7 linked regions of the Homo sapiens genome follow. The protein of the gene in region 4 purifies or fractionates together with the protein of the main gene of each other region. This does not show direct contact. Each region holds a gene or a part of one and is shown on either strand. Other genes may lie near its edges. The genes, in order: UBA6, PADI3, SERPINB5, KIF3A, PI4K2A, PREP and CAMSAP1.

Region 1 (4,118 bases), on a different chromosome or scaffold from region 4:
AAAATAGAAAAAATATACATATACACACAAGTGTGAATCTAATGTGTATCTAATATAGTGTTTCCAGGTATTCACACAAAGACCAACTCCTCTGAAAATAATTTGAGATTTAGGGAGTTATTCAGTAGTAATTATTTGTTCCTCCATATAACTGAAGATTCTTATATTTGATTTCATTAAATGTAAAAACACATTGTCATTTTACTAATTTATGGATAAAGTAAAAAAGGTGATTTTGGTTTCACCTTAGATATTTATTATAAATAATGAGGTTATTTACCATGTAAATGAATGGATTCACATTTGTGTGGGAAGGGTTGTGGCTGGCTTTCTTGGTCAGAATGACTTGTTAACTCTTAAATGAACAGGGATGAAATAATTTAACATTAAAGAGCCTAAGGTTTTCACTCTGCAATGTACAGTTAAGGAATTTACAGTAAAGAAATATATAATGAAGGATACATAAAACTAAATATAAATACTTACAAAGGCTCATTTAAATCAAATTTTATTGGAGAGGGTGGCCTCTTTGGTGACTGCCAAAATAAACCTGGCAAAAAGATACAAATATCATTTTCAATGTATGTAGCCAGTAATAAATGTCATTAAAATTTATTCTCAACATTTATACTTACTGCCATCTTTTAATCGTATGTCCAGAGGGAAACAGTGAAGAAGCTGAAGAGCCTAAAGAAAAAAAATGAATTAAAGACACCCACTACTTAATATTATCTGAGGAAAAATTAAAAAATAAAATTAAAAAATGTGTGTAGTAAATATATGCACATGATTCAAAAATCAAAACACATTAAAAGAGACACAGTGAAGTCTCCCTACCACCCTTGTATTCCATCTGTCCATTCTCCTGTCAATGTCCCTCATAAATGAAAAATTCAAATATCATTTTCTATCACTATTTGTAGGTTTATTGGGAGGTGGTATCTACAGCAAACAAATGTAGATTACTTCACTCCTTTTTATATAAATGGCATATTTTACATGTCATTCTGTTCTTTTTAAAGAGCTAGTACTTAAATAACAAAACCAGAAAAAACACACAGTACTTTGTATTTTTGAAATTGATACATGTTTGAGATTTGCTTCAAAATCACCTGGGGGAAGGTAAGAATGAACGGGAATGGTGATGAAACAAGATTTATCTATGAATTGATAACTGCTAACCCTGGGTGATAGGTAATTGACAATTACATTAGGGTTCATTATACTATTTCCTCTACATTTCTATGGCTGAATATTTTTCATTATAAAAAAAGTTTAAAAAAAATGCACAGAAGATAAGAACTAAAGAGTTCCTTAGATTTTTGAAACGGGTCATTGATAACCATGTTAAGAACAATCTGAAGAGTAATGAGCAAAGAAGTCAAATTTACTGGGTAAAGAAGTGGTAACATTGAGTAGTACAGACCACTTTTCCAAGAAGTAGAGCTCTGTTGAAAGTAAAAAGAAGAAGTATAAACGAAATATTTTTTAAGTGGGGTGTGGTGGCGTGCACATGCAGCCTCAGCTACTTAAGGGCTGAGGCAGGGATCACTTGAGCCCAGGAGTTCCAGGCCAGACTGGAAAACATAGGGAAACCCTGTTTTTTTGTTTTTTTTTAAAGTTGTTTCTAAGGAAGATGAACTTAAGATCCTAAAGAGAGGGAAAGACTAAAGAGAAGGCAACACACATTCCAGCAACTATATTTAACTGGAGGTAAGAATAACAGCTAATATTTAGTAATTTTTTATGTGCCAGGCTCTGTTCTAAATGCTTTGTGTTACCTCCTTTTATCTTTACCACTACCTTATGTATTAGGTACAAATTTATTATTTCTATTTTACAGATGGGGAAACAGACATAAAATGTGATTATCAGATATGGGTGGAAATGGCAAAATCTCAGCAAAATTTCTGACTAAATGTCCCTATTTTCTCAGTTTCTTGCTTCTTCTATTCTGAACAAACTTCTTTTAGATTAGCATGTGTTCTCATTTAACTTACTACTAATTTCTGAAAAGCTTGCCAAAAGAAAGAATACACATTTCAGGTCAATGAAATTAATTTGTTAATAACTAAATAAGCCAAGATCAGACCTTTTCTTAATGTCTCACAATGCATACTTACCTTATGGTTAAAATATTTTTCAAACTTTAATCTTGCTAATTCTACACACTGGGACCAATTTCTAGGTCTTCTGCTAAGTAACTTTATAACTTGAAAACAGCCTTCTAAACTGTGTCCACTCTGTATCTTCTAGAATGGGAGAGAAAAAAAAAATCAACATACTTCCAATTACAAACATATACACATCCCTCACCAAAAGTTAGCCTAAGTTTGAAGTGTCAACTCATGTGTTTTATGCTTTTCTTTTTTCACCTCAAGCTCCTTTTCCCTTCCTTCTTCTTTAACCTTTCTTTTCTTTTCTGTTTGAGAAGGGGAATGGTAAGAGATAGCATACAAAATTTTAACTCTGATTTCTTATCTTACAAGTTATCCTCATATTTTCCTAGCTGTAAGTTATTAGTACTATAATATATGTACTCACTATAAGTGCTATGAATATTTGATACTAAAAAGTGGGCCTTGTTAGCAAAAGATTAAAAGAAAGTGAGAAAACATCTTTAAAGTTGCCTTCACTATAAGAGTAATAAGTCTTGGAGATTATTGTTCCCTCATGAAATTTTAACTAGAACTTACCTCAATTTTTTCTTTCCAAAGGGCTTAATAAAAGCCCTTTTATTATTTGTAGCCCTTCTATCATAATTATCATATCTTTATTAGCTCGCACCATACGAATTGCTGTTTTGTGAGTCGAACATGCTCAAATATCGACAATTCCATGTAGTTCAAACAACCAAAATGATAATTTGTGACCTAATTTCAAGATTCCTTATGTATCATTTCATTTTTTATATACAATCACTCTTTATGGAGGTAAAATAAATCACTTGTAGATGACTTGAAAATAAGATTACACTGACACAAAGTGTTAAGTTTGTATTAAAATTTACTGATTTTTACCTGTAAGACTTCTTCTGCAGATGAATAGGTTTGCCAAAATTTGTTAAACAATGAAGGTTTGTGGGAAAAGGAACTTTCAAACTGTAACAGAGAAAAGAAAAAAAAAATTACAAATAGAAGTCTGTTTAAAGTCAGAAATATCTTCTTTCTCACTTCAAAGAAAATAAATTTAAAAAGGAACTTTTACCTTATCTCTTGCCCACTGTATGGTATGTTCAATAGCAGCTGGAAAGGATTTTAGAGTACAAAATGGTATTTCCTCTTCTGGGGGATCCCGCTAATTTATAAAATATGACAACAGGTACTTAAGGGGAAGCAATGACCAATTTTTATTGATTTAATCTAGTTTTGAGCTTTAAGCCTATTAAAAATCCAAAAATAAATAAAATCCAACCAGACATTTTTATATCTTCTCTCTCTTAGGCAATAAGAGAAGTTAATTCTTTTGACATTTAACCTATTTGTTAATAGCTATGTAATGCCAAACATGAATCTTATTTATTATTTGTGTACTCATTTAAAGCACCATGTAGTACTCATGACACACCATCATCTATAAATCATTTTTTTCCTCATGAATCAAGGTGACATTTAAAGTTTTATAACACTGCCCCGCTTTGAAAAGTAATTCAGGAATACCCAGTATAGTGCTCAGAAAAGCATGAGTTTTTCCATGGAGAAAAACATCTGGGAGCAGAAATATGTCCTCAATGCTTGAGGTTTCTTGCAGAAAGCATGTATTAAATAAATGGTAAATACCTAAGTCGTTTTTTGTGGATAAAGTACCATTGAAGAAATCCACATTCTATTATAGAGTACATTTTGCCTAGGTTTATTGGTTTACCTAATCTAAAATGACTCACTTTGTCTCAGCAAGTGAATAAAATTTTATGTCTTTGTTGACAGTTCTAGTCTCAATCTAATAGTTTGTTCTTATCAAACAATCTTAAACTCAAAGGGTATTAGAAAACTAAGCAGCTCTGAGAAATAAATAGTAAACAGAAGAATAATGCTCCAGAAACACCAGACACAAAATTCTGATAATTAAAAAAAAGTTCAATTATATTTTAAAAAATGTACATGCACATATGTATGAAC
Region 2 (4,118 bases), on a different chromosome or scaffold from region 4:
CAGGCCTGTGCATGGAAGCCTCAGCGGCGAGGGTCCAAGGCCCTGAGCCCAGGACTGGACCAGAAGCACTGCCTAGAAAGCCCAGAAGCCAGCATGTGACAGCTCAGCCATGCTGGCAGCTCGAGGTGGCCTGGAGAGGAAGGACTTTGTCCAGGTGAGGCTCCAGGTACTTCCCCTGTTCTCTAGGAAATGGGAAGCTAGATCCTCCCGTACCTGATGCAGGTTCTCCTCCCAGCAGCTGCCCCTCTCATTCTCCTAACACACAGCTTTCATGACAGGCATGAGCACTGGACTGGAAGTCAGCAGCCCTACCTTCTAGTCACTTATCTTCTGGGCCTCAGTTTCCCCATCAGTGAAATGAGGGCATGACTTTTGCTCATCCTGAGTGCTTTACCCACACTGGTTCCTTTCATCTTCTCCTCATCCCCACCAGATAGATGTCGATGCTGCGGCTGAGGGAGGCAGTCACTCGCTCAAAGTCACACACCTAATGAGTGGTGGGACTGGGATTTGAACCCAGTTGTCTGGCCCCAGGGACCACAGGCTCAAGTACCTTGCCACGGCTCCATCATGTTGCCCCTCCTGATCAAGAACCAGCGCTGGCTCCCCATTACATAGGGATGAAATGAAAACAAGCTCATTATAGCCTGAGTCTAAACTAGACCTCTTAAGGTTCCACGGTGAAAACACCTTCCCCTCACTTGTGTCTCCTCTTGGTGCCTTCCCTGGGGAACCTGCCCCAGCCACCCAGCCCACTGTCTCATCCTGCCTCCAGACCCGTTTCCTGCACCCTCATTTACTTTAATAACTCCTTCCCTGTCCTGGGCCAATGGTGTTGCAAGCCTTTCCTGTCTATTATCACACTTGAGTTTCATGATTGCCCATGAGGTTGGCCAAGTAGGTGTCATTATCCCACTTTAAGGTGAGGTTAATGGGCCCAGAGAGACTAAGTGATTTAGTCAAGCTCAGCTGGCCGATGTGTGACCCAGCCTGGTCTAAAACCTAATTCTTGACTCTGGTCCCAGCACCACCTGAGCCCTCGGCTTGCAGCCCCTCCCTTCCCCAACCTCAGATGTAGCTTGTTCACCTGTGCTAAGCCCTTGTTCAGACCGTGGTCCTGGGGACCCTCCTGGGCAGGGGTGCTTCAGTCTTCACTGGGGATCCCCCAGCATCTCACACAGAGCCTGGCACATGGAGAGGCAGGGGCGCTGGGCTGAAACACCCTACACCCAGGGGCTGGAGCCTGGGGACTGAGTGGGGTTTTCATACCAGAAGGACCATCAAGGGCGCTCAGCCCTTGCCCATGGACACTGGAGGCCCAAGGAACAGCTTTGGGGTTGAGGGAGTTCCATAAAAAGTGTACAGGCTTCAGCCAGGCGCGGTGGCTCGCGCCTGTAATCCCAGCTGGGAGGCTGAGGCAGGCGGATCACTTGAGGTCAGGAGTTCAAGACCAGTCTGGCCAATATGGTGAAACCCTGTTTCTACTGAAAATACAAAAATTAGCCGGACACGGTGGTGGGCTGTGTTGTCCCAGCTGCTTGGGAGGCTGAGGCATGAGAATTGCTTGAACCCGGGAGGTGGAGGTTGCAGTGAGCCAAGATTGCACCACTGCACTCCAGCCTGGGCGACAGAGCAAGACTCTGTCTCAAAAAAAAAAAAAAAAAAAAAAAAAAAAGGCTTCCTTGGGAGATGGAAGGCGAGTGCCTCAGGAGCGTGGCTGAGGGTGTTCCCGAGGGTATGAGAGGCTGCTCTTCCTACCTGGGTTTGTCTTCCTGTGTCTCTTTCCGACTCCCTGTCTCTGACTCTCCATCTCGCTGGGTCTCTCCAAGTCTCTCTGTCCCTATCTCTCTGTCTCTGTGTCTTCATGCCTCTCTCCCTGGTTCTGCCATTTCCCCTGTGGGGGGCTGCCCAGGGCCAAACAGGCCAGAGGGCTCCACCAGCCCTGGAAATTACAGGCTTTGGGAGTAGGGTTGCCAGATAAAATAAAAGATGCCTAGTTAAAATTGAATTTCAGGTAAATAATTAATAATTTTTTTAGTATAAGTGTATCCCAAATACTTCACGGGAGTACCAAACAATGATTGACTGTTCACTTGAAATTCAAGTCCAACTGAGCTTTCTGTATTTTTATTTGCTAAGTCTGGCAGCCCTGCTTAGGAGGAGAAACAGGTGTGTCTGTCCCTCCCAACTGGTGAGGACACCTGACAGGGGCCCAGACACCAGAGTGGGACCTGCCTGATGGAGAGAAGCTTGGGCTTGGTTTATTTCCCTTTTCATAAAAAAGCTGCTTTGAGATGTAAGAGAATCATGTTGGTGGAAGAGTGAAGAGGTTGTTTTGGGGGAGGTCTGCCTTACTCTGAGGGAAGATGGGAAGCGGGGGGAGTGGCCAGCTGTGGAAATTTGGGGTAGTCCCCTACGTATCCTGTGCCTCAGTTTCCCCATGTGTAAACAGGAGTAATTATCTCATCCTGGGGCTGCAGTGAGGATCAGATGAGCTAATGTACAAAAAGGCTTAGGCAGGCCTGCCGTGATAAGAGTGCAGAGGCTGGGGGCTTTTTATGTTATGGTATTGTTGTTATTATTACTCCTGGGGAGGTGGTGGGCAAGAGTGTGGACTGAGGAGCCACATGGCTGGGTTTGGATCCCAGCCCGGCCACAGACCTTGGGCAAGTTACTTAACCTCGGCTTTCTCATCTGTATAATGGGAGACAATAATAGATAGTGCCTCCCTTCTAGGGTTATTGAGAGGATTGCATGATGGGCTGGCACACAGCATGAGCTCAGTAAGTGTCAGTCACTGTTATCCCCCAGGGGCATGCATGCCGCTGCCTCCAGGAGGCCCTCCAACTCGCAGTGGCCTCTCCCTACATGGGTTCCCACTGAGCTGTGATCCTGTGGCCTTGAGCCCCATCTGGCTGCCCTGGACAATGTTGGTCCTCAGCTCCCCAGCGGGATCAACAGTGGGGAGAGCAGTGGGTGGATCTGCCCGCCAGGCAGTACCTGAGTGCACAGTGGGCACCCCACAGTCAAAGGATGCATAGTCTGGTTTCCAAGGAGGAACCCCAGGCTAGGTGGAATGAGGGAAATGCAATCTCAGGGCCAGATAACATCACAGATACTTTAAACCTGCAATTAATTTCTGGTTGTTTGACCAAATCCGGCCAAGTTTCCCGGGTGACACTGCAGAGCTGTGGAACAGCATGGGCTTGGAGTCAGACCTGTTGCACATCTGGCTCTGCCATGTGATGCAACCTCAGGCTTGTCACGAGGCCTCCTTGAGCCTCAGTTGCTAATATGCCAAATGGGGATGATATTGCTCACCTTACAGCTTGTAAGAGTGGAGGGAGCTGCGTGCGCCAGGTGCCTGGCATGCAGCGGGCACTCAACCAGATTGAATTCCCTTCCCAGGGAAGAATTCAAGGATATCTTCCCACCCACTAAGGAGACATGTGATGGGATCTGGGGTGAGAATTGCTCTTTTTAAAGCTCTCAGAACTGTAAGGGGCTCCACCCACCAATGGCTGGTGTTCACTGAGCTCTTCGTGCCCAGACCTGCACTGGGGATTTATCGAGCACATGGCTGGCTTCTGACTTCCGAAGAGCTCGCCATTCTGGTGAGTGGTAAAGAAACTCACAAGGGAAATGTTAATGAACACAGGGGCTTAGAACATCAGACTGTGTGTATGTTTTTTTGTTTTGTTTTGAAACAGGGTCTTGCTCTGTCGCCCAGGCTGGAGTGCAGTGGTGCAATCTTGGCTCACTGCAACCTCTGCCTCCTGGGTTCAAGCGATTCTCCTGCCTCAGCCTCCCCAGTAGCTGGGATTACAGGCATATGCTACCACGCCTGGCTATTTTCTTGTATTTTTAGTAGAGACAGGGTTTCACCATGTTGGCCAGGCTCGACCTCAAGTGATCCGCCCGCCTCGGCTTCCCAAAGTGCCTGACCTCAAGTGATCCATCCGCCTCGGCTTCCCAAAGTGCTGGGATTAAAGGAGTGAGTCACCACGCCCGGCCGACTGTGTATATGTTTGTGTGGGGTCCAGGCTTGACTCGCAGGAGCTTACTGTGAGGATCTGAGGGGACTGGGTGGCCAAGGAAAGCTTCCTGGAGGAAGCAGG
Region 3 (4,118 bases), on a different chromosome or scaffold from region 4:
TGGTGGCTCATGCCTGTAATCCCATGACTTTGGGAAGCCGAGGAGGGCAGATCACCTGAGGTCAGGAGTTGGAGACCAGCCTGGCCAACATGGTGAAACCCTGTCTCTACTAAAAATACAAAAATTAGCTGGGCATGGTTGTGGGTGCCTGTAATCTCAGCTACATGGGAGGCTGAGGCAGGAGAATCAGACCCTGGGAGACAGAGGTTGCAGTCAGCCGAGACTGCACCACTGCACTCCAGCTTGGGCAACAAGAGTGAAACTCCACCTCAAGAAAAACAAACAAACAAACAAACAACAAGACCAGATGCTTTCAGGCACTTGTTGGCTGTGAAAAAACAAAGTATGGCTTACTCATTGACATCACTGGAAGTCATTATGGGAAGAATTAAGGGCCTGTTTTGCAGGCCAGTCTCATTGATACTGTTGAAGTAAATATGTTAAATAATTAATAGAGGGTGGGCACAGTGGCTCATGCCTGTAATCCCAGCACCTTGGGAAGTCGAGGCAGGCAGATCACGAGGTCAGGAGTTTGAGACCAGCCTGACCAACATAGTAAAACCCCATCTCTACTAAAAATACAAAAATTAGCTGGGCATGGTGGCATGTGCCTGTAATCCCAGCTGCTCAGGAGGCTGAGACAGGAGAATGGCTTGAACCCAGGAGGCAGAGGTTGCAGTGAGCTGAGATTGTGCCACTGCACTCCAGCCTGGGTGACAAAGTGAGACTCCATCTCAAAAAAAAAAAAAAAAAAAAAAAAGAAATGGGTAAAGTACCTCTTTTGTAAATGAGATCAAGGAACTGAGACTGGAAATTTGACCCATTTTATTGGAAAACCCAGACATCTATATGATGATGTGATGTGGTCTCCGTGGGTGGGATCTGACTTGTGTTAGACTGGAAGCAGCACTTCAGTTAGTACAATACTTGAAGGTAGCTTAGTTACCTGTAGCTCCTACGCGTCAGTTCTAGTTTTCATGCTTCTCCCAGTAGTTAGAGTACTTAGCATCAATATCTTGTTTTTGCCAAATATAGTAGCACCTTCTTAATGCTAGCATCCATGAGGAAAAGCCCTGCAAGATACAATCTATGCCTGGGTTAGCCGGATGGCTTCCATTACTCTTTCTTTCTTTGTTCCCATGGAATTTTTATTCATACTCTCCCCTGTCCACTGCCAGAATTTGCTTTTCCACAGTGAAATCTGTTTACTTACATAGATCCCCTACTAGCGCATGGGATTTTTAAGGTAGGGACAATGCCTTATTCACCTCAGTGTCTACAATTTCTGGCCAAGTCCCTAACACATCAGTAGGTGCTCAGCAAATTTGCTGAATGAATGATCAGTCCCTAAGGGTCAGTTTGCTTAAACAATCAATAGCAGACAAAACCTGACTGGCCTTTGGGACTACCATGGTTTCCTATGCAAGACCCATTGGGCATTTTCACTGGGAGAAGACAATGATGACTGTTACTGCTCCTTACCAACTCAAAATATCCATGGGAGCTGAGGGATGGGTAGGAGGTCCTCCTAACTTCCTGAGTTTAGCTTCCCAACTGCAGTGGTCTTCTCAAAGCTGACTGCAGAGACAGGATTGACCCTGCACACAAGAGGTCTGTCTGAGATTCTAGAGACATAGCTTATGCTCTTCACACTCTTGTGTTTTGCACACACAGGTCCTTGAGTTTTAAGCATGGCTTTTTGACCTTCTCAGTATTGTCTTTTATCTGGAGTGGAAGTGGAACGTGACTTTACCCAGCCTCTACTGTGAGTTAGGGAGGGGTGTTGGCCCCACTGGCCCTGACGGCATCCACACAGCCTTTGCTGTCATAGAGTGACCCTTCTGGCTCCTTTGATTAGTGATTGGCTCTCCTCCATAGCAAGGGCTGGCAAAGGGTTCCTAACTCTGTTTAAGTGAAATCTGAAACAGGTTGCCAATGGTGCCTCTCTTCAAGACCCCAGAGCCAGCCTGGAAGGAACACCATGAAAATGTTGCAATAGTCAATGAGTAGAATGTGGACTTTTGTGTCAACCACACTAAGGGTCGTACTTTTTTCATTAAGAAAGTATTAACGTGTGTTTTTTGAGAAGGGAGGAAGAATGTGTGCTATTCCTTTATTCTTGCTATTAAATCATAAAGCTGGGTTATATAAGATCCTGGAAACTCAGCCTTTATGAACAGAATTAATAAAAGTTTGAAATGTCATTGATCTCTCAGTGTTTCACTTGATAAAGCAATAAAATGCTATTCACAGCTGCATGAGGCTACACCCTTCTTTTGAATGCAGATGCTATTACTTCTCCTTTGTTTTCTTTGAATTGCTTTGTCCACCCTAGAACTTTTTGAGTGACATTACTAAACCTTTTCTTATGCCCCGTGGTGTCTCCGGTAAGGGTTAGACTAAATTGGTGAAGTTATATCATTAAAAGTTTAGTATAGTACTTATTCTGATAAAGATATCTATCCATATATATCTATATTAGTATATATGTTGTATTATATTTTCTGGGGTAGATAGTCTTTATTTGGTCCTCTTTTCAGAAGATATGTCGTCTCAACATGTGTTTCAGAAAATAAAGTACCTGTAGTCAGTGCCGATAAGTGAAATTGATGACAGTTTTTGGAGGCCACAACTATGTGCACATTCAGAAACTATGAGCAGTCTAACCTGTTGGAGATTTTTAGACAAATTTCTTTAGGAGGAATATATTTTAAGACAATATCCTCTTTAGGAGAAATAAAGGGAAGAATTATCTGTTAACCTCCAAAGTAGTATGTTTTCCTATAATTCTGTTTTTGGTTACACATAGAGTTGAAGTCTTCCATTATTTATCAGCCAAATATTCAGTGAGAAACTACAAGCTGGGGTAGAAAATGAGACTTAGTTTCTGCCTTGACTGTATTCTAGTTGGGGTGGGAAGTGGAAAGACAATCACTAGATAATATTTCTAACACTGTGGCAAGTGTTAAAATAGAGGTATATACAAAAGTAAAATAAATAACGTTTAGCTCTGCTGGAGAGAGGTATTGGGGAAGGTTCAGCTTAGTATTTGAAGATACCAGATGCAAGTTTACTGGAGTATTATCCTTGCAGGCTTGATATGAAGTTTGAAATTTCTCCCCAAAGAGATTTAGTTAACAGGCAAATATCCCATGGGAGGTATATGTCAATAGGTTATACAACATTACTGTCAGTCTTTTACAACTTAGCGTGAATTAATTTTCCTTCAGGAAATCAGTCATCTCTGGAGCAGAGACAGGAGGCCAGGTGTTAATAGGAGCAAAGAGAAGAAAAGGCCTGGGCAGTGCTTGGACATAAAAGACCTGAACGATCAGACCCTTCCATGGGCTCCCTTTAAGAAGAGCAGGGAGAGACCAAGGGCTAAAGTTGGGAGACTGAGAAAATGCAGCCCACCGGGGCATTACTTATTTCTCCAGCTCTGATCCGCTGTTGTACTAGGGGTCTAATCCGGCCTGTGTCTGCCTCCTTCTTGAATAGCCCAGAGCATTCATCTAAACAGCCTTCCTACAGCAGCTCCCCACTTTAGGTGTGGCCAGACAGGAGTTCTAGACCAGGTTGTCTCCTGGGACATTGACACCGCAGCCAAGTTTATTGGTGCTGAGGCAGACACAGTTGGTGTGGTTGGTTCAGGGGCTAGCATTGGAATAGCGTTTGGCAGCTTGATCATTGGTTATTCCAGGAACCCATCTCTCAAGCAGCAGCTCTTCTCCTATGCGATTCTGGGCTTTGCCCTGTCTGAGGCCATGGGGCTCTTCTGTTTGATGGTCGCCTTCCTTATCCTCTTCGCCATGTGAAGCTCTGTGGGGGTCACCTGCCTGTCCCTGCTGCTGCGGCTGCACACCATTCTTGGTGCTGGGCTGTGCTAAGCTTTACCATTGAACACAACGTTTCTGAAAAAAAAAAAAAAAGAGCCAAGCATACAGTGGAGCTCAAAGGGACTTAGAGATAATTTTAAAAAGACTTAGAGATAATTTTAAAGAACATTTTCCTTTTTAAAAATTATGCAATACTCCAAGCATTCAGAAAATGATAGAGAATAATAAAACGAACACCCATATACCGATCAATCATCTTTTTGAACTTAATATTTTGCCTTA
Region 4 (4,118 bases):
TGTAGCTATTTTGGATAGAAGGGTCCATTGTATATAGTGTATTTCTAAAAACTAGATCTATTTTGGTTATTTTATTTCCGTGTGATAGGAAAACATATCAATGAATTAGAATGAGTTATAAATTAAGTTAGAAATCGATACTACACAGTGGTGTAATTTGGCAGAGATGTTACATAATTATATTTCTATTTTGAAATTGTATATCCAAATTTTAAATTTTGGGAAATGATATTAGTAGAATAATAGATCATCAGTGAATATAGAGTATTCTCATTCTAATCAACAGACAAGAGCATCAGTCTTTGCTGGAAAAATTATCTGCCCTGGAAAAGAAGGTAATTGTTGGTGGGGTTGACTTGTTGGCCAAAGCTGAGGAACAAGAGAAACTTCTTGAAGAATCTAACATGGAACTGGAAGAAAGGAGGAAAAGAGCAGAGCAACTTCGCAGAGAACTTGAGGAAAAAGAGGTAATGTGACTTTCTGTTTTTAGTTTGGTATTTTGCCAGAGAGATTTAACTTTTCTAGTGGAAAGCTAAATATCTATAATCGTATTGAAATTTTAAAGCATATTTATGGATTGCTTTGAAGATCAGATTTGCTAAACATTTATGTCATTTGTTAAAGAATTAGATATTTGATTTTACAAAGAAATTTATTCTGAAGTTTACTAATTTTTGTCATAGCAAGAACGCTTGGATATTGAAGAAAAATATACCAGTTTGCAAGAGGAAGCACAGGGAAAGACCAAGAAGTTAAAGAAAGTTTGGACTATGCTGATGGCTGCAAAGTCAGAGGTTGGTTCTCTTAGAAATTACCTACTAATGCAGTTCTGGATTTTTTAAAAGGGAGTTCTTTGATTAAGAATTTATAAATAATCATAATGTGAGCTTATAATTTAAAAGAAATAAAATATTTCTTTATGTGCAATTTTTAATTTTATCTATTAGTCTAAATTGTTTCTTTTCAACCTTAACAAATAGTGTAGAATAGATGCTGATAGTGTCACGCTGTTTATCATTTTTATAAAAGAACTAGGTAAGCTCTCACAAGGTTTCTTAGACAAGCATCCTATGTGAGATGGTGCTGTTTTGTAGTTAAAGTCTTGTTTGTTCATAATATTTTTATGGATTTTCTGGTAGATGGCTGATCTCCAACAAGAACATCAGAGGGAAATTGAAGGCCTACTGGAGAACATTCGGCAACTTAGCCGGGAGCTTCGACTTCAGATGCTTATTATTGATAACTTTATACCTCGGGATTATCAGGTAAAAAGGAAGTTCTCTGACCGAGATAGTCGCTTGACTGGGATTAAGGAACAAAGATTTCTAATTTAACTGATGATAAATACTTAATACTTCAGTTATTGAATGTACAATTTTTTGAACAAATGCCATCACATTTCACTTTAGTTGTTAACTTTTAATACATAATCTCTGTTTGAGTATCTAGCCTTTTAGACGAACTCAGATTCATGTATATGTGATCAGAATCAAGGTGTAGGTCCCATTCCTTCATTCAGCGCCCATTATCATACAAGTAGAATAAATGGAACCTCTGTGCTGCCTTTTTCTCCCTGCTGTGGGTGCTGATTCTTTGTGTGTGTGTGTGTATATGGTAAAATATAGATAACATGAAATTTACCATCTTAGCTATTTTAAGTGTGCAGTTCAATGGCATTTAGGACATTCACATTGTTGTGCAACCTGTACCATCATTCATCTCCAGATGGATGCTAATTCTTAGTACTAGTATAATTTTAAAATCTCAGCCTCTATTTTTTTTAATCCAAAATTTGTCTTTCCAGTGCATTTTGGTAAACTTTAACATGATTTTTTTTTTTTTTTTTTTTGTCAGGGAGACAGAGTCACTTTGTTGCCCAGGCTGGAGTGCAGTGGTGCAATCTCGGCTCCCTGCAACCTTCACTTCCCGGGTTCAAGTGATTCTCATGCCTCTGCCTCCCGAGTAGCTGGGATTACAGGCGTGTACCACCACACCCAGCTAATTTTTGTATATTTAGTAGAGATGGGGTTTAGCCATGTTGGCCAGGCTGGTCTTGAGTTCCTGAGCTCAGGTTGATCTGCCCGTTTTGGCCTCCCAAAATGATGGGATTACAGGTGTTAACCACCATGCCTGGCCAATTTTTTAAAAATCTGTTTTGAATCTCAATACAGTTTTAAGAAATTTGTCTGAAAATAAGTCTTAGTCATTTTTTTTTTTTTTGGACCTCAGGTACATGGAATTAGTCCTGGGTTCATGGTACATTCTCCTTATTGGTCCTTGGATGGCCTGCTTTTATTTAGTTATTTTGTAATGAACTCATCACCCAAAACAATATCTAGGACCCTGATAATAACTACTTCTAACCAGTTTCCCCTTCCCTTATTTCATTCCTTTGCCTCTTCCAACCCAAGGTAATCATTATCTTGATTCCCAAGTTTCTCATTCTGTTGTTTTTTCATTTTCATTTAGTTTTATTTCATCTGCATGCATTCCTAAGAAATATGTATTTTAGAATTTATAAAAAGGTTATATCAGTATATAATGTTTTGAGACTTTTATTACTCAATGTTATTAAGATTTTAGTTTTATGACTTCAATATTTTAGATGTTATTAAATATTAAAAATAGGCTATCTTTCACCCTTTTAAAAGGAAATGATTGAAAACTATGTCCATTGGAATGAAGACATAGGAGAATGGCAGCTAGTGAGTATTACCTTCATTCTTTCACGTAATAATTAAAGAGTACTTCCTATGGTCTAGAAATTGTGCTGGCTACAGTGGGGAGGAACATGGTCCAGTAGATGAATCAGATGAGAATCCAGTAGGGCAGATAAAATATTTTTCTAATTCCATGTAATTAATTGTAACATACAGATCATGGTCTGGGTGGAAATGGTCAGAGTTAGGGGCTATGTGGGACTAAGTGACCTCTGGGGCCCTTTCTGCTCTAGCATTCAAATCATGTTTTACTAGTGTAATGTTAGGATTTCTCAGTTATTTGCCTAACTCACAGTATTGATTACTAATTAAGACATTTCTCTGTCTCTCCCTTTTCTTTTTTTGAGAAATGTGTTGCTTATACAGGAAATAACATGAGGAAGCAAACCCCAGTACCTGATAAAAAGGAGAAAGATGTAAGAGTACTTAAAAAAAAACAAAACAAAACACAAAACTACTGTTGTTTCTTTATAGGAATATGAGTCATTAAATTGTATTATCAACTTGATATCTGTTAATCAGCTCTGCTGAAAAATGGGCTGATACTTTTGGGAATAAAGGCTCTAGGATGGGGTGATGAGGAGGACAGTTCTGCTTACCATCAGTCTTGATGTCAGGCTTATTCCCACCACAAGAGGGGCATGGACTCACTCTTTGGAGTCCTCTTTTCACTACCACTCTGGGTCGTAGGATTATGGGTGGAGACTAGAATGTGTCTTTCTTTCTCTTCAAAGCTAGTTCTAGTCCTAGGTCAAGAAGAAGAGGGAGCGGGCCGGGCGTGGTGGCTCACGCCTGTAATCCCAGCACTTTGGGAGGCCGAGGCGGGTGGATCACGAGGTCAGGAGATCAAGACCATCCTGGCTAACACAGTGAAACCCCGTCTCTACTAAAAAAATACAAAAAAAATTAGCCGGGCGTGGTGGCGGGTGCCTGTAGTCCCAGCTACTCAGGAGGCTGAGGCAGGAGAATGGCGTGAACCCAGGAGGTGGAGCTTGCAGTGAGCCCAGATCGCGCTACTGCACTCCAGCCTGGGCGACAGAGTGAGACTCCGTCTCAAAAAAAAAAAAAAAAGAAGAAGAAGAGGGGGCAGCTTTAAGAAAAACAGCAACAGTTTTTATGTCCAAGGAAATTTATAGTGTGTCAGGGCTTCTTACTCACCAACCTTTATTAAGTACATTTTAGATACTGGGATTAGAAGATGATGTCATTAGACATTTCTTTGGTTTTAGCTTCTGTGGGTTTGATCAAGGAGTTTATTCAGTATTTTAAATCTTCCCCCAAATCTGGCTTTAACTCTTTGCCTTAAGAGTGCTTTGTGTTTGTTTCTTTTACTTAGCCCTTTGAGGTGGACCTTTCTCACGTGTATCTTGCCTATACTGAGGAGAGTCTGCGTCAGTC
Region 5 (4,118 bases), on a different chromosome or scaffold from region 4:
AGGTGACATGCCCACTCTTTTTACATTCATCTCTTGTCCTTTTCCTTTTCATGCACCACTGAAGCAGGAGAACAGACTCCCTTGTGCAAGAGCAGCCAGCTGTTATCTTCCGAGGCTCTGTTTTCTCACTGGAAAATGTAGTTGTCACCAGTGAAGTAACATCTGAGTCAAGGTCCACACAAAAGGACCTTGGCCAACTGATATGGATTTTATTTCTTCTGTTCTGCTTTCAGGATTCTCATTTTCTTTCCCTAGGAGGAATGGCTTATAGTTATCTTTATTATTGTCATTTCCTTCTTACCAAGGACTGTAGCAACTCTTGGGGAAGTGTACCTTTTCTAAGATAAGAACAGGACTCTTGAACTTTGAACAAGAGCCAGGTCAGAGGCACCAAAATGTGCTAAGTTCAGATAACAACATGGAAGCCAGTTCAGAGAGTAGCTCAAGATAAGTTCAATAAGAATTCTTCTCTTGAGGGAGTTGGGATGAGTTGCTTTGCTACTAATTGGAAGGGCCTGAGGGAGATGGGTTTCCTCAGTCATTAGTCTTTCCTTGCTCTTCAGGACACAGACTGGGTGGTGGTGAAGGAGCCTGTTATCAAGGTGGCTGCCATAGACAATGGGCTGGCCTTCCCACTGAAGCATCCTGACTCCTGGAGGGCATGTAAGTCTCCAGACAATGGTGGTCTGGCTCTTCCCTTGCTCAGTATATTTTCTCACTGTGCAGTGGAGATGATAATGTCTCTATCATAGGATTATTCTAAAAATTAATGAAATAATGGAGTTCAGGCACTTTAACACAATGGCTGGCATATGGCAACTATTTCATAATGTAAGCTGTTTTTCTAATTTTTGTCTTCTATGATTCCCATTACAAGCATAAAGGTGATTAGAAATTAGAAGCATAAAGATGAGTTTTCTCATTGTCTCTTTGCATTCTTCTCGTTCTTTCTGAGGACTTTTTTTTTTTGGAAATGGAGTTTCGCTCTTGTTGCCCAGGCTAGAGTGCAATGGTGCGATCTGGGCCCACTGCAACCTCCACCTCCTGGGTTCAAGCGATTCTCCTGCCTCAACCTCCCAAGTAGCTGGGATTACAGGCATGCGCCACCACGCCCGGCTAATTTTGTATTTTTAGTAGAGACGGGGTTTCACCATGTTGGCCAGGCTGTTCTTGAACTCCTGACTTCAGGTGATCTGCCTGCCTCAGCCTCCCAAAATGCTGGGATTACAGGTGTGAGCCACTGCGCCTGGCTGAGGGCTATTTATTTTTTATTTATTTATTTTTTTTTTGAGACGGAGTCTTGCCCTGTCGCCCAGGCTGGAGTGCAGTGGCGCGATCTCGGCTCACTGCAACCTCCTCCTCCTGGGTTCACACCATTCTCCTGCCTCAGCCTCCCGAGTAGCTGGGACTACAGGCACCCGCCACCATGCCCAGCTAATTTTTGTATTTTTAGTAGAGACAGGGTTTCAGTGTGTTAGCCAAGATGATCTCAATCTCCTGACCTTGTGATCCACCCGCCTTGGCCTCCCAAAGTGCTGGGATTACAGGCATGAGCCACTGCGCCCGGCCCTTTTTTAATTTTTTAATTTGTTATTTTATTGTTTTAGTGTATATTTCCTGAAATATCTTTTTTTTTCCTGTTATCTGAGGACTGTCTTTCCATAATTTATTCTAATTGTGCCTCTAAATATAAGCTTCCTATCAGTGTTCTGTCTTCCTTGTTCCATCTCCTACCCTGTTGTAACTGAGAAGCTTCTGGAAAGGAGGAGAAATAAATGTAGGGAGTCAGTAGCCCCTTTTGCAGCATTAGTCTTCCTTTTCAGAAGGACCATCTCAGCGTCTCAGTGGCAAGTAGTTGCTTCTAGACCTTGCATCTTGGAAGGTCATGTAATGTCTGAGAATGAGCTCTGACATTAGGCAGCCCTGGGTTTGAACCCTGGTTCCTCTACTGACTAGCTGTGTAACCTTTACAGTTAAGAGCACTTGTAAGTTTTTGTTTCTGTTGTATGTCAGGGAAGAGGGGTTCTCCTTTAGAAAGTGCCTTGACTGGTGGAGGACACAGATGAGCAGGGACTTTTCCAACACCAGCTTTGCCTTTGACTTTTCCTCTTTTCAGATCCTTTTTACTGGGCCTGGTTGCCCCAGGCGAAAGTCCCATTTTCTCAGGAGATCAAAGATCTGATCCTTCCAAAGATATCGGACCCTAACTTCGTCAAGGACTTGGAAGAGGACCTATATGAACTCTTCAAGGTTAGCCCTGGGAACCTCAGCCCTATTATCATATGGGAGAAGGAATTTTTAATGGTTTTTTTAATTGGTCCTGACAAAAGCCAAGAGGAAATGGCTAACACCTTTCTGACTTGAGTTAGCCAACGAATAGCAAGATTTCCACATGTGGACAGCAGGACCTGGTTTGGATGGGTTTGAGAGAAATGGGCAGGGGTGAGAAATCACACTGATGTGTCTCTCCTGTCCATCATGTGGCTGCAATGTATCTGCAGGGCTTTCATTTTAATATGGAGCACTGGAGCCTAGAGTTTGAGATGCAGAGGAAGATATTGACTTGTTTTCTGTTTCCTCATCTGTAAAGCAGGGAGTTCTTGTGGGAGTAGTTGACTTCACAAAGCTGCAGAAGCCTTATGCAGGTTTTCCTTCTTAGAAAGTTTCTAACTGGGGGAGAAAATGGGTTCCTGTGAGGCATTCACACAGGTTCCATCTCCTTCTGGTCTTCTTTTGCAGAAAGATCCTGGTTTCGACAGGGGCCAGTTCCATAAGCAGATTGCTGTCATGCGGGGCCAGGTAAGCCTGGGACATCCTCCCAGTATCTTTGGCGTCTCTGGGAGTGTTGTGTGCTCAGGTTGAGCAAATGTTTGAAGTTTGTGTTTTATACCCCCCCCTTTTTTTTTGAGACCGAGTCTCACTCTGTCACCCAGGCTAAAGTGCAGTGGCATGATCTCTGCTCACTGCAACCTCCACCTCCCAGGTTCAAGCAATTCTTGTGCCTCAGCCTCCCAAGTAGCTAGGATTACAGGCGCATGTCACAACGCCCGGCTAATTTTTGCATTTTTAGTAGAGACAGGGTTTTACCATGTTGACCAGGCTGGTCTCGAACTCCTGACCTCAAGTGATGCACCTGCCTCTGCCTCCCAGAGTGCTGGGATTACAGGCGTGAGGCCCTGCGCCCGGCCGTGTTTTACAGCTTTTTTAAGTCCGTTGTGTACATTATTTTTGGCTGTACCTTAACACCTAGGAGAGGAAAAGTGGCCCTCCCAATTCTCCCACCTCTTCCCTGGTATCCAGTGCTTGTTGAAGCACTTAATGTGCACTCATCTCTATGCTAGTTGCTAGGTAATTCATTGGTAATTAAACTAATGCTCTCTGTCCTAGAGTTGCTCAAGGCAGGCTGTATGTTTTGGTGGTTAAGATCTGGGCCCTGGAGCCAGACTGCTTCACTACTTGGAAGCTCTGTGGCCTGGGGCAAAAGCCTCTGTTTTCTTGTTCATAAAACAGGATAGTAATAATACGTTGCACAGTTGGCTGGAGAATTTCATGAGATAATGCTTATCAAGCGTTTAGTAAAAAGAGTACTGGGCACATGAAGCACTCACATATTGATTATGGTTATAATTTTGTTGTTATAGGTGCAACTTACATTATTCCTTCTCCTTCCACTTCACCTTCAAAGGGAGCTAAGGAAACCAAGGGGATTGTTGATCTTCCAAAGCATAGTAAAGAAATGCTTGAAAAATGGTTTGAAAACTCTGTAGGGTACTGGTATTATGCCTATCACTTTGAAGTCTTCTTAAAGAGAGTTGGGATGACCTAGTGGTTAAGGGTGCAAACTGTGGTCACAGTGCCTGGGTTTTTGAAGCCTGGCTCTGCCATTTACTACCTGTGAGATTTTGGGCAAGTTACTTAATCTCTCCTTCCCTTAGTTTCCTCATGTTTAATGTGGGATCAATAATAGTAGCTGAGACCAGGCATGGTGGCTCACACTTGTAATCCCAGCACTTTGAGAGGCTTAGGTGGGCAGATCACTTGAGCTAAGGAGTTGGAGACCAGCCTGGGCAACATGGTGAAACCCCATCTCTACAAAAAACACAAAAATTAGCCATGTG
Region 6 (4,118 bases), on a different chromosome or scaffold from region 4:
CTGTGAAGTAGGCATGGTGTTTTCTTCCACTGTAAAATGAAGTAGTGCTTTTGGACACACTTGGTGATCTCCAAAATGCTCCCCTGGGTGGTTTCTCAGATAGGCATTGATTTTATAACTAAAAAGCAAAATCCAATTTCCTCCTTGATGTTTTTAATGAGGGAAAGTGCAGTCAGCAAACTTCCTGTAAAGGGCCACATAGTAAATATTTTAAATGTTGCAAGCCACATAAGTCTCTGTTGGTTTTTCCCCTCTAGCTCTTTGAAAATACAAAAACCATTCTGATCTCCAGAGCCACAGGAAAGCGGGCCAGGGCGAAGATTGCCAATCCCTAGTGATAGTTGGAATTGTATTTCTGTGGGACTCAGTAAATTTTATTTTCTGTTTAAATGAAATCAGAAATGTGACCTGTAACAGTTTTATTTTTCTTGAACTGGTCCTCTTGCAAAAATGTTAATTACTGTATTCATACTTTACATCCCTTGTCTCTTGTTTTTAAATGCATTGTAATCAATGAGCTTTGGAACAGTTTGTCTCACCACAAAATCATGGTTCTGCAGAGTGGGATTGGTGGTTTTTGTAGGGGAACCCAAAGCATTGTTGCACATTTGAAGACCATTGTGAGCTTGGATGGGCCCTTAGAGTTTGATGATATATCCAAAAGTGAACTCTGATAATAATGCATTTTTCCCTGCCATTCAAAGTATATTATGGTCTTAATTTCCTGAAGTTTTTCCCTGATGATTTACTTATTTATAGACATCTGATGAAATCTTCTATTGAATTTAAAGCTGATACAATGTTCTTGTTTCATTTCTTGCTAATAGCCAGATGTGAATTACTAGTAGCCAAGTTTTTATGGTATTGTCAACTTTTTAACTGGTTAGTTACAAATAGGGTGTGCTTGGATACAACTCATCTTTTGTAAAAGCCCCTTTTCCTGCCTTCACTACCAGTATTTCCTGATGGCCATCTCTTGCCTTTCTTATAAACCATGTTGCTGATATTCTTCTGCAATGCCACTTGTTTCAGGTGTTTTTTGTTTTTGTGTGTGTTTTAAGACAGTCTCCCTGTGTCGCCCAGGCTGGAGTGCAGTGGCACGATCTTGGCTCACTGCAACCTCTGCCTCCCGGATTCAAGCGATTTTTGTGCCTCAGCCACCCTGAGTAGCTGGAATTACAGGCACCCACCACCACGCCTGACAAATTTTTGTATTTTTAGTAGAGACAGGGTTTCGCCATGCTGGCCAGGGTGGTCTCGATCTTCTGGCCTCAAGTGATCCACCCGCCTCAGCCTTCCAAAGTTCTGGGATTACAGGCATGAGTCACTGCACCTGGCCTCCAATGTTTTTTCAATGTTCTTTGGTTGCAAATTTTAGCAAAGTTCTCTGATTGAAATTAACATGGTAGTAGGTCTTACAAAGCCAAAATCGATAAAATAGCGCCTGGGTATCCCTAACTTTCTCTCTTTGACTCTGACTTCTCTTGGGATGGCCAGGTGCTGAATAAGAATCCCGGAACCATGGCACTGCGTAAATGCAGATTATTGGCAGTGTGTGATCTGAGCTACAGTATAGTGTGTTTGTTAGGAGCGTGGATCTGGGAGCCAACTCTGCCATCTGCCACTTCCTAGCTGTATGATGTCGGGCAACTTTTTAACCACTCCAAACCTCAGTTTCCCAATCTGTAAAGTTGGCCTAATAAAAGGACCTTCTCCATAGGATTATTGTGAGTTCTAAATAAGTTAATACTTGCCCTGTAAGCATTAGCTGAGTTAGTACCATGTAAGCATTGGTTGTTACTACATATTAATCAGTCACTTGGCAGGAGCTGGGCAGGTATGAAGAAGAGTAAGGAGGTGAGAGAGGCTGGTAATGAGAGAGAAGAGGCACTGGCTAAGAGACAAAGTGTGCTTTTTCTGATACATATTAGTGGATAATATTTCACATGGAAAATTTTATATTTAACTTGCTTTGTCCATTTTAATTTCTCCACAGGCCTTTGTGGAGGCCCAGAATAAGATTACTGTGCCATTTCTTGAGCAGTGTCCCATCAGAGGTTTATACAAAGAGAGAATGACTGAACTATATGATTATCCCAAGTATAGTTGCCACTTCAAGAAAGGAAAACGGTGAGACTGCTTTTACTGAATTTCCTTTTTATTTTCAAAGTAAATGCTTTCTTAAATTGTAAAATACAAATTCCAGATAACTTGTCCTTGTATAAGATTAATTCATTATAAGGAATTAATTTCTATGCCTGAATATGAGAGTAATATTTTTGATCTATTAGGTATTGTCCAAATTGTTAAAATAATAGTTAAGAAATTTAGTAGGGATAGGTCATATAAAGAAATCTAGATTATAGGAAATCGTCGTCTTATCGGTAGTAATTGGTGAGATAGGATGATTCATAGACAGCAGTGGAGGTTTGTTTGCCTCCGAAGTTAATTATCTTTGATGTATACTACTTGGAAACATTTAATTCTGTGTTTTTCTTCTGTCAAAGAATGGTGAAATGGGTGAATTCACTTCTCTTGTTCCTGTCCCGTTAACACCCACTTACAGATGTTTTCTTGATCTTTTATTAAATCTCTTTGGAGCCACTATCACACATTTACTTTAGACTTTCTTCAGCCCTCTGCCATTCTTACAGAGATCGGCAACGTACAGTCTGCCTACCAAACCCTGGCTGCCTACCTATTTTTATAAATAAGGTCTGATTGGGACACAGCCATGCTTATCGGTTTACGTATTGTCCATAGCTGCTTTTGTGCTGCAGCTACAGGCCTGAGTATTATAGTGACAGACTGTATGGCTCACAGAGCTTGAAATATTTGCAGTCTTGCCCTTTACAGAGAAAGTGTACTGACCTTCCACCCTAGCAGCCTTGCTAGGGAAAAGAACCAGAATTTTATTTTAGAAAAGTCTGCTTTCTTCTTCATTTAAAAGAAAAAGTTACTGCTTTATTTGAATATCAATTTTTATTTTAACACATAAAATGGTCTTTATTTGCCTCTACTCGGCTAATGTGCAGGATTACAATACAGGATTTGAATATGGAAGCAATTCTGTTAACAAGCTCTAGGTAGAGAGAAATGATGGAACCTTTCACCCATGTCCCCACGTCCCTGCGATGGCCAGATTACAGTGGTACCTTTTTAGGTCTTTGGTTTTGTTTTGGTTTTTGCTTGTGTGTGTTTGGTTTTACTCCACAAATAGAAAACTCCACAGCTGAATAAAGACCATCTCTGTTCCCCAGGTATTTTTATTTTTACAATACAGGTTTGCAGAACCAGCGAGTATTATATGTACAGGATTCCTTAGAGGGTGAGGCCAGAGTGTTCCTGGACCCCAACATACTGTCTGACGATGGCACAGTGGCACTCCGAGGTAAGTGCTACACAGAGAGGCCCGTGGAACTCCTAAGACCCTCACTTGGAGCTCTGAAGTTAGTGCAGTTGCTTTACCTCTGAAATGCCAGGCAGGGTGTGGACCATATTGTGGAACAGATGCACATACAATATCAGGAAAGCTAATTTTTGCACAGTATATTTAGAATACATGAATAGTCACATTCCTCTTTTCCACTCTGATGGCATGAAGCAGAACTGGAAAATAATTAACACTGGACCCAAATTAGCTTCTAGGGCTTCTGGAATCTTGACATATCATCATCATTTCCTCCAACATCCCTGAGACCTACCTGTGATTAGAAAAAAATAAGTCGTCTTCTATAAGAAGTTTAAGCTGTACAAAGATTATTCCAACTATAATATTAAACAGGAAAGAATGTTTATCAGATCAGTTTCCCTCTTGGGAAGGAGGCGATTAGAGTTTTAAAAATCTAGTTAATTGTCAACATGTTAGAATTACAAGTAAAAACACACAAATCTTGTAGAAATTGAACAGCTGGGTATCCTGTTCCCTGAAGATGGAGGTTTAAAGACTAAGTTTGTCCACAGTTGCTGTACATCTCCTACTTAACTCTGCCCCTAAGATAACCTCCTCCGTAGGCCATAGAGAAGATTATCCAAGGTTTCTGCAGTAAGCAGAGTTCTAGGGTAAGGAACTAAGTTATTCTCCAGTTCTGTATTTTAATAATTGTAAACTCTACAAT
Region 7 (4,118 bases), on a different chromosome or scaffold from region 4:
GTGTTTAGCTTTGTGGGCCACAGAGTCTCTGTCCCGAGGACTCCACTTGGCCAGAAGCAGTCCCGGGCAATACGCATGCAAGTGAGCGTGGTGTGGCTGAGACGACTTTGTTATGAGCCCTGAAACTGGAATTTCATGTGATTTTCAACATAGTTTTTTTTTTTTTGCTGGTTTTCCAGTCAAAACCCTGTCATCTCCCTGTCCTGCCCCAAAGCGTAAAAAGCGTTCGTCGTTAGAATGCTCTGGAGGTGGCCAGGCCTGGCCTGTGGGCTGAAGTTTGCCAACCTCTGATATAGCAACTTCAAAAAACATTTTTTGTATGTTTTTCTTGTAATTTTTTCCTTAGATATGAAGGGAAGCGTAAACTGAACTGTTTTAATAGTCAGTGCGTCACATGATGTTTGCTGTGACGTTCGTTGTCTCCTAAGATGATAAGACCATATATCGTCGTCTCCTAAGATGATAAGACCATGTTTTCGTGGTAGTTTTTCAATGTTTAGATAGATTTTGATACACAGTTACTTACAGTATTGGGTACAGTAATGTGCTGTGCAGGTCTGTAGTCTAGGAGCAGTGGCTGATGTAGCCGAGGCCTGTGGGGGGCGCTGCCATCCAGGTGTGCGCACACTCCGTCATGCTCACACAGCAGCAGAGTCACCTGAGGACCTATTTCTCAGAACGTTTTCTCTCGGCAAGCGACACGCAACTGTTTCTGCTTTGCCTCCAGGCAGTTATGAATTTGAGAGGATACCAAATCATCAGGTGGATCTTAGCAAAAGAGGCAAGCTTTATTTGGTGGTTGCACTTTTGAAATGTAAACAAATTCGTGACCAACTTCAGTATTCACTTTTTCGCTTTTTTTTTTTTGGACAGAGTCTGGCTCTGTCGCCCAGGCTGGAGTAAAAGGGCATGATCTTGGCTCACTGCAACCTCTGCCTCCCGAGTTCAAGCGATTCTTCTGCCTCAGGCTCCTGAGTAGCTGGGATTACAGGCGTGTGCCACCATGCCCGGCTAATTTTTTTTTTTTTTTTTTTTTTTTTAAGTGGAGACAGGGTTTCGCCATGTCGGCCAGGCTGGTCTTGAACTCCTGACCTCAGGTGATCCACTCTCCTTGGCCTCCCAAAGTGCTAGGATTACAGGCGTGAGCCACCACATCTAGCCAATTTTTGTATTTTTAATAGAGACAGGGTTTCGCCATGTTGGGCAGGCTGGTCTTGAACTCCTGACCTCAAGTGATTCACCCACCTCAGCCTCCCAAAGTGCTGGGATTACAGGAATGAGCCATTCTGCCCAGCCTCGCTCTTATTTTGGAAATATACGTGTACTTTTTAAGGCAAACTGGATCTCGTGAGATGTTTGGGAAATTGGGTGATGCCGAGCGCCTTTGAAATGCCCTGGTTTGTCTTCATTCGTATTTCAGAGTCTGTAACGGTTAGAGAAAAGCATAGAAGTCTTTATGCGTTAAACTTTTAAAAGCGTAGTGGAAGTCGGCTGCTGGGTCGAGTGCGGCCGTGTCCGGCGTCTGAGGGGGTTCCTGTCATGCTCTGTGTGGCCTCTGTCTTGCAGGATGAACAGAAAGCGGAAGATGAGCTCGCCAAGAAGCGGGCGGCCTTCCTCCTGAAGCAGCAGCGCAAGGCCGAGGAGGCCCGCGTGCGCAAGCAGCAGCTGGAAGCGGAGGTGGAGCTCAAGCGTGACGAAGCCCGGTAAGCGTCCCGCCGGGGGGGAAAGCAGACTGAGCAGGAGCCTGGTGGGTCCCTGGCGGCCCCGGTCCCGTTGCTGGCACTGAGCATGGACCATGGCAATGAGTGCCTGTGACGGTCTTACTCCTCCCATGGACCACCTCCCCGAACTTTCACGGCCCCTGCTGATCTTCAGTGAGGACGTGCGTTGCCGGTGGCCAGGGAGGCTGTGTGGCCTCGGTGGGTCATCTGCAGGACTGCCTTTGCAGCCTCTGTGTCCCGCTTGTGGAGGCTGGCCACTCTTGGTCCCAGCGGCCGGGGAGAACCCGAGAAACGCGCCTGGACAGAGCGCCGCGGCGCAGGCGTCGTGGAAGAAGCCCCGTGACCGAGCAGTGTCTGGGCGTGTGTTTCTCTCAGGCGCAAAGCTGAGGAAGACCGGGTGCGGAAGGAGGAGGAGAAGGCGCGGCGCGAGCTCATCAAGCAGGAGTACCTGCGGAGGAAGCAGCAGCAGATCCTAGAGGAGCAGGGGCTCGGCAAGCCCAAGTCAAAGCCGAAGAAGCCGCGGCCGAAGTCGGTGCACCGGGAAGAGTCGTGCAGCGACTCCGGCACCAAGTGCTCCTCCACCCGTAAGCAGCCCCGGCCCTCACGCGGGCAGCGCTTCCTTCCGCGGGCGGCGGCCTCACGTTCTTCAGCTCATTTCAATTTTGTCATCAAGAGTGGTGTGAGGCGGGAAGGGTGGAGATGATTATCCCCGTTTCATGGATGACAATGTTGAGACCAGATGCTCTGAGATGTGCGGCACATCCAGGCGCAGCCCGGCTCCCCGGGATGGGGTGGGGACGCGGCCTGTGTGGCCGAGCTCTGCAGGGCGAGGTGAGGGGAACAGGTACAGGGGACAGGTACTTGTCTGTCGGAATCCGTTCATGAACCGTCGTCTGTTTCTGTCTCTGGCAGCTGATAACTTGAGCCGGACTCAGTCAGGCTCCAGCCTGTCCTTGGCCTCTGCGGCGACGACAGAACCCGAGAGCGTTCATTCCGGGGGCACACCCTCTCAGCGGTAAGGGGCCTGAGACGGCCGCCGGCACGGGGCTGGAGGACGTTCGGAGGGGCAGGGTGGGACTTCCTGATTAAACACGGTGAGAGAGGCTTTTGTAACTTTAATTTTGATATAATTTCACATTTACAGAATAGTTGCAATCATGTCATCAGGAATACCAGTGCCCTTCACACGGGCTCCCCAGCTGGTTAAACGTGGCAGCCTTCACCTTATCACCCTCCCCTGTCCCCCACCCCACACGTGCACACCTGCTTCTTCATCGTTTTGAGTCCGTTGGAGTCCAAGCGTGGTGGCTCACACCCATGATTCCAGGACTTTGGGAGGCTGAGGCAGGAGGATCACTTGGGCCTTGGAGTTCCAGACCAGCCTGGGCAACAGAGTGAGACCCCCCCATCTCTACAAAAAATACAAAAAAAAGTTAGCTGGGTGTGGGGGCATGCACCTATAGTCCCAGCTACTTGGGAGGCTGAGGTGGTAGTATCGCTTGAGCCCAGGAAGTTGAGGCTGCAGTGAGCTGTGCTCAGGCTACTGCACTCCAGCCTGGGCAACAGAGTGAGACGCTGCCAGAAAACCCCCAAAAGCAAAAATAAACAGAAAAAAACCACTCCGTTGGAGATGTCTGGCCTTTTATGCTTAAATACTTAAGTGTGTATTTCCTAGAACGAGAATGTTTTCTCGTGTTACCAGTTACCAAGGCAGCACTTTCATCCGATTTGCGGTCCCCATTCAGCTGTCCTCAGTTATCCCAAGAGTGTCCCTGACAACTGTGTTGTTTCCGAGTCCAGGATCTGGTTTGGGGCGATGAATGGCCTTGAAATGCCATGTCCCTGTAGTCTCCTTCGATCCAGAGCAGTTCCTTAGCCTTTCTGTGTTTTTCTGGACCTTGACTTTTGGTAACCACAGGTCAGTTATCCTTCTGGCTGCCTCTCAGTATCGGCTTCCTGTGATGAGACTGAGGCCTCGCGCTGCTGATTGAGCAGCCCAGAAGTGAGTGTGCGTCTTTCTCAACGCAGCCTCTCAGGTGGGCCCCGGGACCGCTCCTGTGATGAGAAAGTAACTTCAGGAGAGAGGCTGGGGACTGGTCTGGACCTCACGGAACTGTCCCGCAGGGGCTTTAGTGACCACCATGGAGCTCCTGCTCACCGCTTCCTCCACGCGTGTTGTCAGCTCTCGTGGGAGCAAGGGCTTCCCTTGCCCATGTGTCCCTTTATTTTTATATGCACAGCGTGTGGCTCCTGCTCTGTGTGCACCTGTGGGCCGTGTTTTCTTGTCTCTTCACCCGTCTCATGGCTCCTTGTTGTCTCTGGGCTTTGTGGCAGATCCCTCCGAGGGACTGCAGATTCTGTTTGGGTTTTTGTTCTGGTGGTCAGTTACCCTGGCTG

What was found.
Region 1: the proteins of KIF3A (region 4) and UBA6 purify together in Homo sapiens (affinity purification with mass spectrometry; one large-scale study listed by BioGRID and IntAct). This does not show direct contact.
Region 2: the proteins of KIF3A (region 4) and PADI3 purify together in Homo sapiens (affinity purification with mass spectrometry; 2 studies listed by BioGRID and IntAct, with this or other methods). This does not show direct contact.
Region 3: the proteins of KIF3A (region 4) and SERPINB5 purify together in Homo sapiens (affinity purification with mass spectrometry; 2 studies listed by BioGRID and IntAct, with this or other methods). This does not show direct contact.
Region 5: the proteins of KIF3A (region 4) and PI4K2A purify together in Homo sapiens (affinity purification with mass spectrometry; one large-scale study listed by BioGRID and IntAct). This does not show direct contact.
Region 6: the proteins of KIF3A (region 4) and PREP purify together in Homo sapiens (affinity purification with mass spectrometry; 2 studies listed by BioGRID and IntAct, with this or other methods). This does not show direct contact.
Region 7: the proteins of KIF3A (region 4) and CAMSAP1 purify together in Homo sapiens (affinity purification with mass spectrometry; one large-scale study listed by BioGRID and IntAct). This does not show direct contact.

The regions. Positions count from the first base shown.
Region 1 is NC_000004.12:67,631,222-67,635,339, forward strand, and holds part of UBA6 (ubiquitin-like modifier-activating enzyme 6), read right to left. Parts: intron 3,298-4,118; coding exon 3,208-3,297; intron 3,102-3,207; coding exon 3,021-3,101; intron 2,253-3,020; coding exon 2,124-2,252; intron 688-2,123; coding exon 636-687; intron 551-635; coding exon 487-550; intron 1-486. UniProt on the Homo sapiens protein: Activates ubiquitin by first adenylating its C-terminal glycine residue with ATP, and thereafter linking this residue to the side chain of a cysteine residue in E1, yielding a ubiquitin-E1 thioester and free AMP.
Region 2 is NC_000001.11:17,255,385-17,259,502, forward strand, and holds part of PADI3 (protein-arginine deiminase type-3), read left to right. Parts: intron 1-1,861; exon of another isoform or gene 1,862-3,614; intron 3,615-4,118. UniProt on the Homo sapiens protein: Catalyzes the deimination of arginine residues of proteins.
Region 3 is NC_000018.10:63,493,586-63,497,703, forward strand, and holds part of SERPINB5 (serpin B5), read left to right. Parts: intron 1-3,356; exon of another isoform or gene 3,357-3,918; intron 3,919-4,118. UniProt on the Homo sapiens protein: Tumor suppressor. It blocks the growth, invasion, and metastatic properties of mammary tumors.
Region 4 is NC_000005.10:132,699,234-132,703,351, reverse strand, and holds part of KIF3A (kinesin-like protein KIF3A), read left to right. Parts: intron 1-286; coding exon 287-467; intron 468-683; coding exon 684-794; intron 795-1,139; coding exon 1,140-1,265; intron 1,266-2,651; coding exon 2,652-2,705; intron 2,706-3,067; coding exon 3,068-3,136; intron 3,137-4,056; coding exon 4,057-4,118. UniProt on the Homo sapiens protein: Microtubule-based anterograde translocator for membranous organelles. Plus end-directed microtubule sliding activity in vitro. Plays a role in primary cilia formation. Plays a role in centriole cohesion and subdistal appendage organization and function.
Region 5 is NC_000010.11:97,664,322-97,668,439, forward strand, and holds part of PI4K2A (phosphatidylinositol 4-kinase type 2-alpha), read left to right. Parts: intron 1-563; coding exon 564-663; intron 664-2,116; coding exon 2,117-2,250; intron 2,251-2,739; coding exon 2,740-2,799; intron 2,800-4,118. UniProt on the Homo sapiens protein: Membrane-bound phosphatidylinositol-4 kinase (PI4-kinase) that catalyzes the phosphorylation of phosphatidylinositol (PI) to phosphatidylinositol 4-phosphate (PI4P), a lipid that plays important roles in endocytosis, Golgi function, protein sorting and membrane trafficking and is required for prolonged survival of neurons.
Region 6 is NC_000006.12:105,375,398-105,379,515, reverse strand, and holds part of PREP (prolyl endopeptidase), read left to right. Parts: intron 1-1,996; coding exon 1,997-2,130; intron 2,131-3,260; coding exon 3,261-3,391; intron 3,392-4,118. UniProt on the Homo sapiens protein: Cleaves peptide bonds on the C-terminal side of prolyl residues within peptides that are up to approximately 30 amino acids long.
Region 7 is NC_000009.12:135,816,595-135,820,712, reverse strand, and holds part of CAMSAP1 (calmodulin-regulated spectrin-associated protein 1), read left to right. Parts: intron 1-1,566; coding exon 1,567-1,703; intron 1,704-2,096; coding exon 2,097-2,305; intron 2,306-2,633; coding exon 2,634-2,736; intron 2,737-4,118. UniProt on the Homo sapiens protein: Key microtubule-organizing protein that specifically binds the minus-end of non-centrosomal microtubules and regulates their dynamics and organization. Specifically recognizes growing microtubule minus-ends and stabilizes microtubules.